Regions from separate parts of the Homo sapiens genome. Here region 2 is linked to region 1. A link means that fine-mapping ties the variant in region 1 to the expression of a gene that starts in the linked region. Tissue or cell type: whole blood. Region 1 holds a variant in brackets; the other region holds the start of a gene. All regions are shown on one strand. Distances are between the middles of the regions.

Evidence for each region. PIP is the estimated chance that this variant, and not a neighbour inherited with it, causes the effect.
Region 2: it holds the start of HAR1A, and the variant in region 1 is fine-mapped to the expression of HAR1A in whole blood (INTERVAL, PIP above 0.99).

The regions. Positions count from the first base shown.
Region 1 is chr20:63,073,421-63,076,268 of GRCh38, reverse strand. No RefSeq gene overlaps it. Among named protein-coding and RNA genes, the nearest start is that of LINC01749, 5.1 kb to the left of the region's middle. The variant A/C (reference allele first, on the strand shown) is at 1,347.
Region 2 is chr20:63,100,077-63,102,749 of GRCh38, reverse strand. It overlaps HAR1A (highly accelerated region 1A), which reads right to left and starts at 1,458. Exons shown (of 2, transcript NR_003244.2): 1 at 1-1,458. HAR1B (highly accelerated region 1B) reads left to right here and starts at 431. Exons shown (of 3, transcript NR_152601.1): 1 at 431-635. RefSeq lists a silencer at 1-382.

The DNA.
Region 1 (2,848 bases):
ACAACATCAAAGGCACAGGCAACAAAAGAAAAAAACAGACAAATTGGACTTCGTAAAAAATAAATATTTTTGTACCAAAAGACTATTTTTTTTAAGAGCCAGGGTCTCGCTCTGTTGCCCAGGCTGGAGTGCAGTGGCACAATTACAGCTCACTGCAACCTTGAACTCCTAGGCTCAAGTGATCCTCACGCCTCAGCCCCCCAAGAAGCTAGGACTACAGGCATGGAGCACTGTGCCAGGCTGTTTTTTATTTTATGTTTTTGTAGAGACAGGGTCTCACTATGTTGCCCAGGTTGTTGACCCTCAAGTGATCCTCCTGCCTTGGCCTCCCAAAGTGCTGGGATTACAGGCAGAGTTAATATGCCCAGCCAAAAGACAATATTAACAGGGAAAAAAGGCAACCCAGAAAATGGGAGAAAATATTTGCAAATCATATATCTGATTAGGGATTAATATCCATAATATACAGAGGACTTCTAAAACTCAACAACAACAAAAAACCTAACTCAGAAATGGGCAAAGGACTTGGATAAACATTTCTACAAAGAACACATACACATGGCCAATAAGCACATGAAACATCGCTAACCACGAGGAAAATGCAAATCAGAACCACAGTGCGATGCGCCTCACACCCACTGGGATGGCTACTGTGAGAAAAAACCGAAAATAACAAATGTTGGTGAGGATGTGGAGAAACGAACCCTCGTGCATGGCTGGTGGGGGTGTAAAATGGTGCCACCACTGTGGAAAACAGGATGGCACTCCCTCAAAAAACTCCAAATAGAATGACCACGTGATCCAGCCATTCCACTTCTGAGTGCACCCCCAAAAGAATTGAAAGCAGGGTCTCAAAGATAACCTATAGCAGATGTGCATGCTGTGAACCCATGTTCATAGCAGCACTGTTCATAACAGCTAATATGAACCCCATATCCATTGAAGGATGAACGACTATACAAAATATGGTCTATCCACGCAATGGAATATTATTCCGCCTTTAAAAAGGAAGGAAATTTACCCATGCTACAACGTGGATGAAATTTGAGGACTTGATACAAAGTGAAATAAGACAGTCGCAAAAAGGCGAATACTATACGATTCCACTGGTGTGAGGTACTTAGTCAAATTCATAGACAGAAAGTAGAACGGTGGGTGCTGAGGCTTGAGGGAGGGGGGATGGGAGTTGTTTAATTCGGACAGAGTTTCAGTTTTACAAGATGAAGAGAGTTCTGGAGGTGGACAGTCGTGATGACCGCACAACATTATGAACAGACTCAATACCACTTAAAATGGCTAATAAGGTAAATCGTGTTATGCATATTTTACCACAGGCCCAGGCCTTA[A/C]GGAACTGGCACTTCCTGTCTCCTGGAACACCCACTTTCAGAACCATCACCATGCCACGTGGGAGCTCAGGTTGCCCGTGGAGACATCCATGGAGACGAACTGATGGCTGTGCCAACTCACGTCTTGGAGATTGGTCCCGCAGATAGGGTTGAACTGTCCCAGTGGACGCTGTGGAAGAGAGGCAAGCTGACTCCTCTCAGCCTTGCCTTAATCAGCTTTCTGATCCCAAGAAATTACCACTTTTTAAGCCATTCACAAGTTACATCAAACTTCAATATCTGCCCTGGTGTCCCACTATAAGCTGTCCACAGGATATGGCAACATGTGAAACTCAGAAACATCTTCTGTTCTCAAAATGTGCCTTTATTTTATTGTTATTATTTTGAGACGGGGTCTCACTCTGTCACCCAGGCTGGAGATCAGTGGCCTGATCACGGCTCACTGCAGCCTCAACCACCTGGGTACAAGTGATCCTCCCACCTGAGCCTCCCAAGTGGCTGGGTCCACAGGTGCGCACCACCACGCCTGGCTAACCTTTTTTTTCTTAGTAGAGATGCGGTCTCACTATGTTACTCAGTCTGGTCTCAAATTCCTGGGCTCAAGCGAGACTGGCCCGCCTCGGCCTCCCCTAATGCCGGGATTGCAGGTGTAAGCCACTGTGCCCAGCCACAAAGTGTGCCTTTCTTTAAGTGTGTTACCTAGGTACCAATGACTTTTTGAGTAGAACAAAAAAACAAAAACAAAAACATTAAAAAGTGTATATACCTAACTTTCCCACCTTCCCACAGGACTCCGAATTTAAGAACTGTTAGCATATAAAACTCTGTGGGGGTGGCCCCCTGCGGAGGCTTCAGGGAAATCGGCTGTGGTGACCGGAGACTCCGAGCCTCCTCCCTTAAAAAGAGGAAACTGTGCAAAATGCAGCTCCAGAAAAAAATTCCTGATCTTCTGAAGTTTCCTGATGACAGGTGGGGGACAGATTCCTGGGGACTGGAGAAGCCTCCGGGGAAGAAGTGTCCCTGTGTGTCCAGCCTGTGCAGGGAGGGGAGGGCACATCGCAGGGCTGCAGCTGGCCCCAGGGAGAGCTCCCGACCTCCAGGGAGCCCCTGCACCCTTAGACCAACAGCCCCCAGGGTGCACAAGGCCACCCAGGTCCTCCCAAGAGCCCTGTGAACACTTGGGCACCCAGCCCAACTGGGAGGGCAGCTGACCAGTCCTGGGGGACATTTCAACCGCTCACCTCAGTACCAGCCACAACCCGCAAGGTGCCAAGCAATCTCAGGAATTCCTGCAGGAATGGGCACTCAGGTGGATTCCAGAGTCCCACGTGCCAGGGCCCAGGGTCCCAGCCTTGCCCTCAGATTTGAAATGCACGTCTCATCTGTAGTATCATTTAGGACCCTCGATGAGGCTCCTCCAGTTCAGGTGGGGGCTGCCTGTCACCAAAGTCCACCCCCAGCTGGGACCCAGGGCCACTGGGACCTCTACATTGGGAAGCCCC
Region 2 (2,673 bases), 27 kb before region 1:
CTCGCGCCCACCGTGCCGCGCGGGCCACCGCCCACCCGGGGGCTGGTTAGAAACGCGGACTCTGCCCCTTCGCGCCGCCTCCGGGGCTCACGGGCGCCCGAGTCGGAAGCCCCGCCCTGGGGAGGCCGGTCTCCTCGCGAGGGCCTGGGCCGCTCTGGGCGCTCGGCCCGCGTGTCGGGGGCTCCCCGGGGCGCCCTGGGCTCCTGCTGCTGTTTCTTCCTGGCCGGCCTTGAGGTGCGGAGCCCCCGGGCTCTGCTGAGGGCCTCCCGGCCCCGTGGCCTCGGTGACCTCGGTTCAGGCGTCCGTGACCGTCTCGCCTGGTGGCTCCGCGCCGCTGACCTCGGCACGCCGCGGGCCTTCCTCCTCTTGCGGACCGGAGGGAGAGCCGGGCGCAGAGACCGAGGCACAGTCGCGCGGCGCGGCGTTCCGCGTGACCCTGCGGTTAAAACCCGCGCGCTGCAGCATCGCGGAAAACGGGATTCGCCTCATTTGAAACTTGAGGAAAATCTCTAAACACTTTCATTTTGATAGAAACCATTTCCGCCGCTGACGTGCGTCTACGCCCATCATTTCAGCTGACACGTTGCTGTAACGTCTCCTCCGTTTCATGCTCTTTCGAACCCTGTCAGCTGCGGGTAAGACTGTAGAAAAGAGAGGGGAGAACAGGGCCCAGCCGGTGGCGCCGGCGTCTTAGCAGCCGATTGCGCAGCTCCCGGGCGCGGCGGAGAGTCCGGGCTCGTGGGGAGCGCCGGCTCCAGAGCCCGCGGAGCAGCAGCCCAGACTCCCAAGACGGAGGGCACCGGGCGGGCGCACACACTAACCCACGCAGGGGACACTCAGGCTCTAACTCACGTGCACACACGCTCACATGTACACACGCACACACGCACCCGGACGTACACACACAGCTGTCGCCTACCACACACATTCATACTCCATTCACACTGCAGGATGTGCAAATGTGTGTGACAGAGAGAGGAGGGAGAGAGAGGGGGAGAGAGAGGGAGAGAGAGGGAGAGAGAGGGAGGGGGAGAGAGGGAGAGGGAGAGGGGGAGAGGGAGGGAGAGGGAGGGGGGAGAGAGGGAGAGGGAGAGAGAGAGGGAGAGGGAGAGAGAGGGAGAGAGAGGGAGAGAGAGGGAGAGAGGGAGAGAGAGAGGGAGAGAGAGAGAGGGAGAGAGAGAGAGAGAGAGAGAATGTGCCTCTCAGGAATGGTCAAATATCCTCCTGACACACCTGGTTGGCCCAATGCAGGGACAGAGAGGGGGATGACCTGATGGCTTTGCCTTCCACCCACCCAGCGCCTGCCCATCAGTACAGCAGGGCTGCCCTGCCCGCCTGCGACCCACCTTTCCCGACAGCCTGTGTGCTTTCTCCCCGAGTCTCCAGGACAGCCCACTAGTGGCATGGCGGTTCCCTGGGTGGGAGGAGCGGAACCCTTCAGGCCCCCTCAACACTCCCCCAAAACCTCCCTGGGGGCCCCCACTGGCTTCAGCGCCCTGCAAAAGGCTGACTAGGATCCATGTGCACACTCCGTGTGCCACTGCTGCCAGGGCCCCCAGCCCCAGGCTGCCTCCCTCCCTCTCTGTCAGGAGCTGGGTTGGCCTGGGAGGGTTGTGGTGCCGCTGACTGCTCCCGGGCAGGGGCCATCTCATCTCTGTTCTCACCGTGCAGGCAGCAGCAGGAAGGGAGGCAAAAGGAGGGAGTGGGGAGAAGGAGGGGGCGCTGACCACATGAAGAGACGCTTCTTCCCTGGTGCTCCATCTCCCTCCCCGTCCCCCAGTGGACACCCTGGACCAAGCTGAGCCCACAAGGGTGCCCACCCTGCATGCTTGTCCCCATCAGCTCCGTGTGGCCCCCTCAGGCAGTTTCCACAGTGAGCTCAGGTGCAGCAGGGGTCCCGAGCACAGAAATGACCAGGAGACCCTGGCCCTGCCCCTGGGGCCCTAGAAACAGCTCCTGCTCTTGAATTCCCCACCCCTGTGTGCTCAATTTCTCTGGGCCTCTGGGTGCTTTTGAGGTTCCTGGCATTTACCAAGGAGAAAGATGCAGGAGGGGAGGCTGCAGGGCTGTGGGGATGGTGAAGTCCAACCCAGCCACCCCCAGCAGGATGGTGTGTGGGGCCGGACACCTACCAAGATCTCTTCCCAGCTTTTCTGTGGGAAGGAGCCGGCCAGGGCCAGAACCCTGGCTGAGACATGAAGCTAAAAGTGCCTGAGGACTTGGTCCCAGGTCTCTGTCCTCCTCCCCAAATGCCTCCGGAGCCTTCATCTCTTCAGGCACCTCACTCACTTCCACCCAACCCCGCCTGCCCTGGGCGGACCCTCCCCCAGCTCTGCCCTCCCCCACACCCCAAACCCACCCTCCCCATTCTGTTAAAACAAAGCCCCTCTTAGCAGGGTATGTCACGTGGCGCTGCCGAATTATTCCATTAATTTATTATTCATGATGAAAAATTATTCTAATAACATTTCCATACTATTAATATTCCAAAGACGAGCCGTTGAGAGCCCCTTCCTGCGGCCTCCTCTTGGCGAGAGCCAACTCTATTTTTAACAAAGTGTATTGAAATTTAAATCTAATCACCCACAATATGCTACGTTTCACAAATACGCTCTCAAAGAGTCTGTGAGAGGAGCCAGGCCCGGTGGTCCCGGAGGAGGCAGGCGGGTGGGC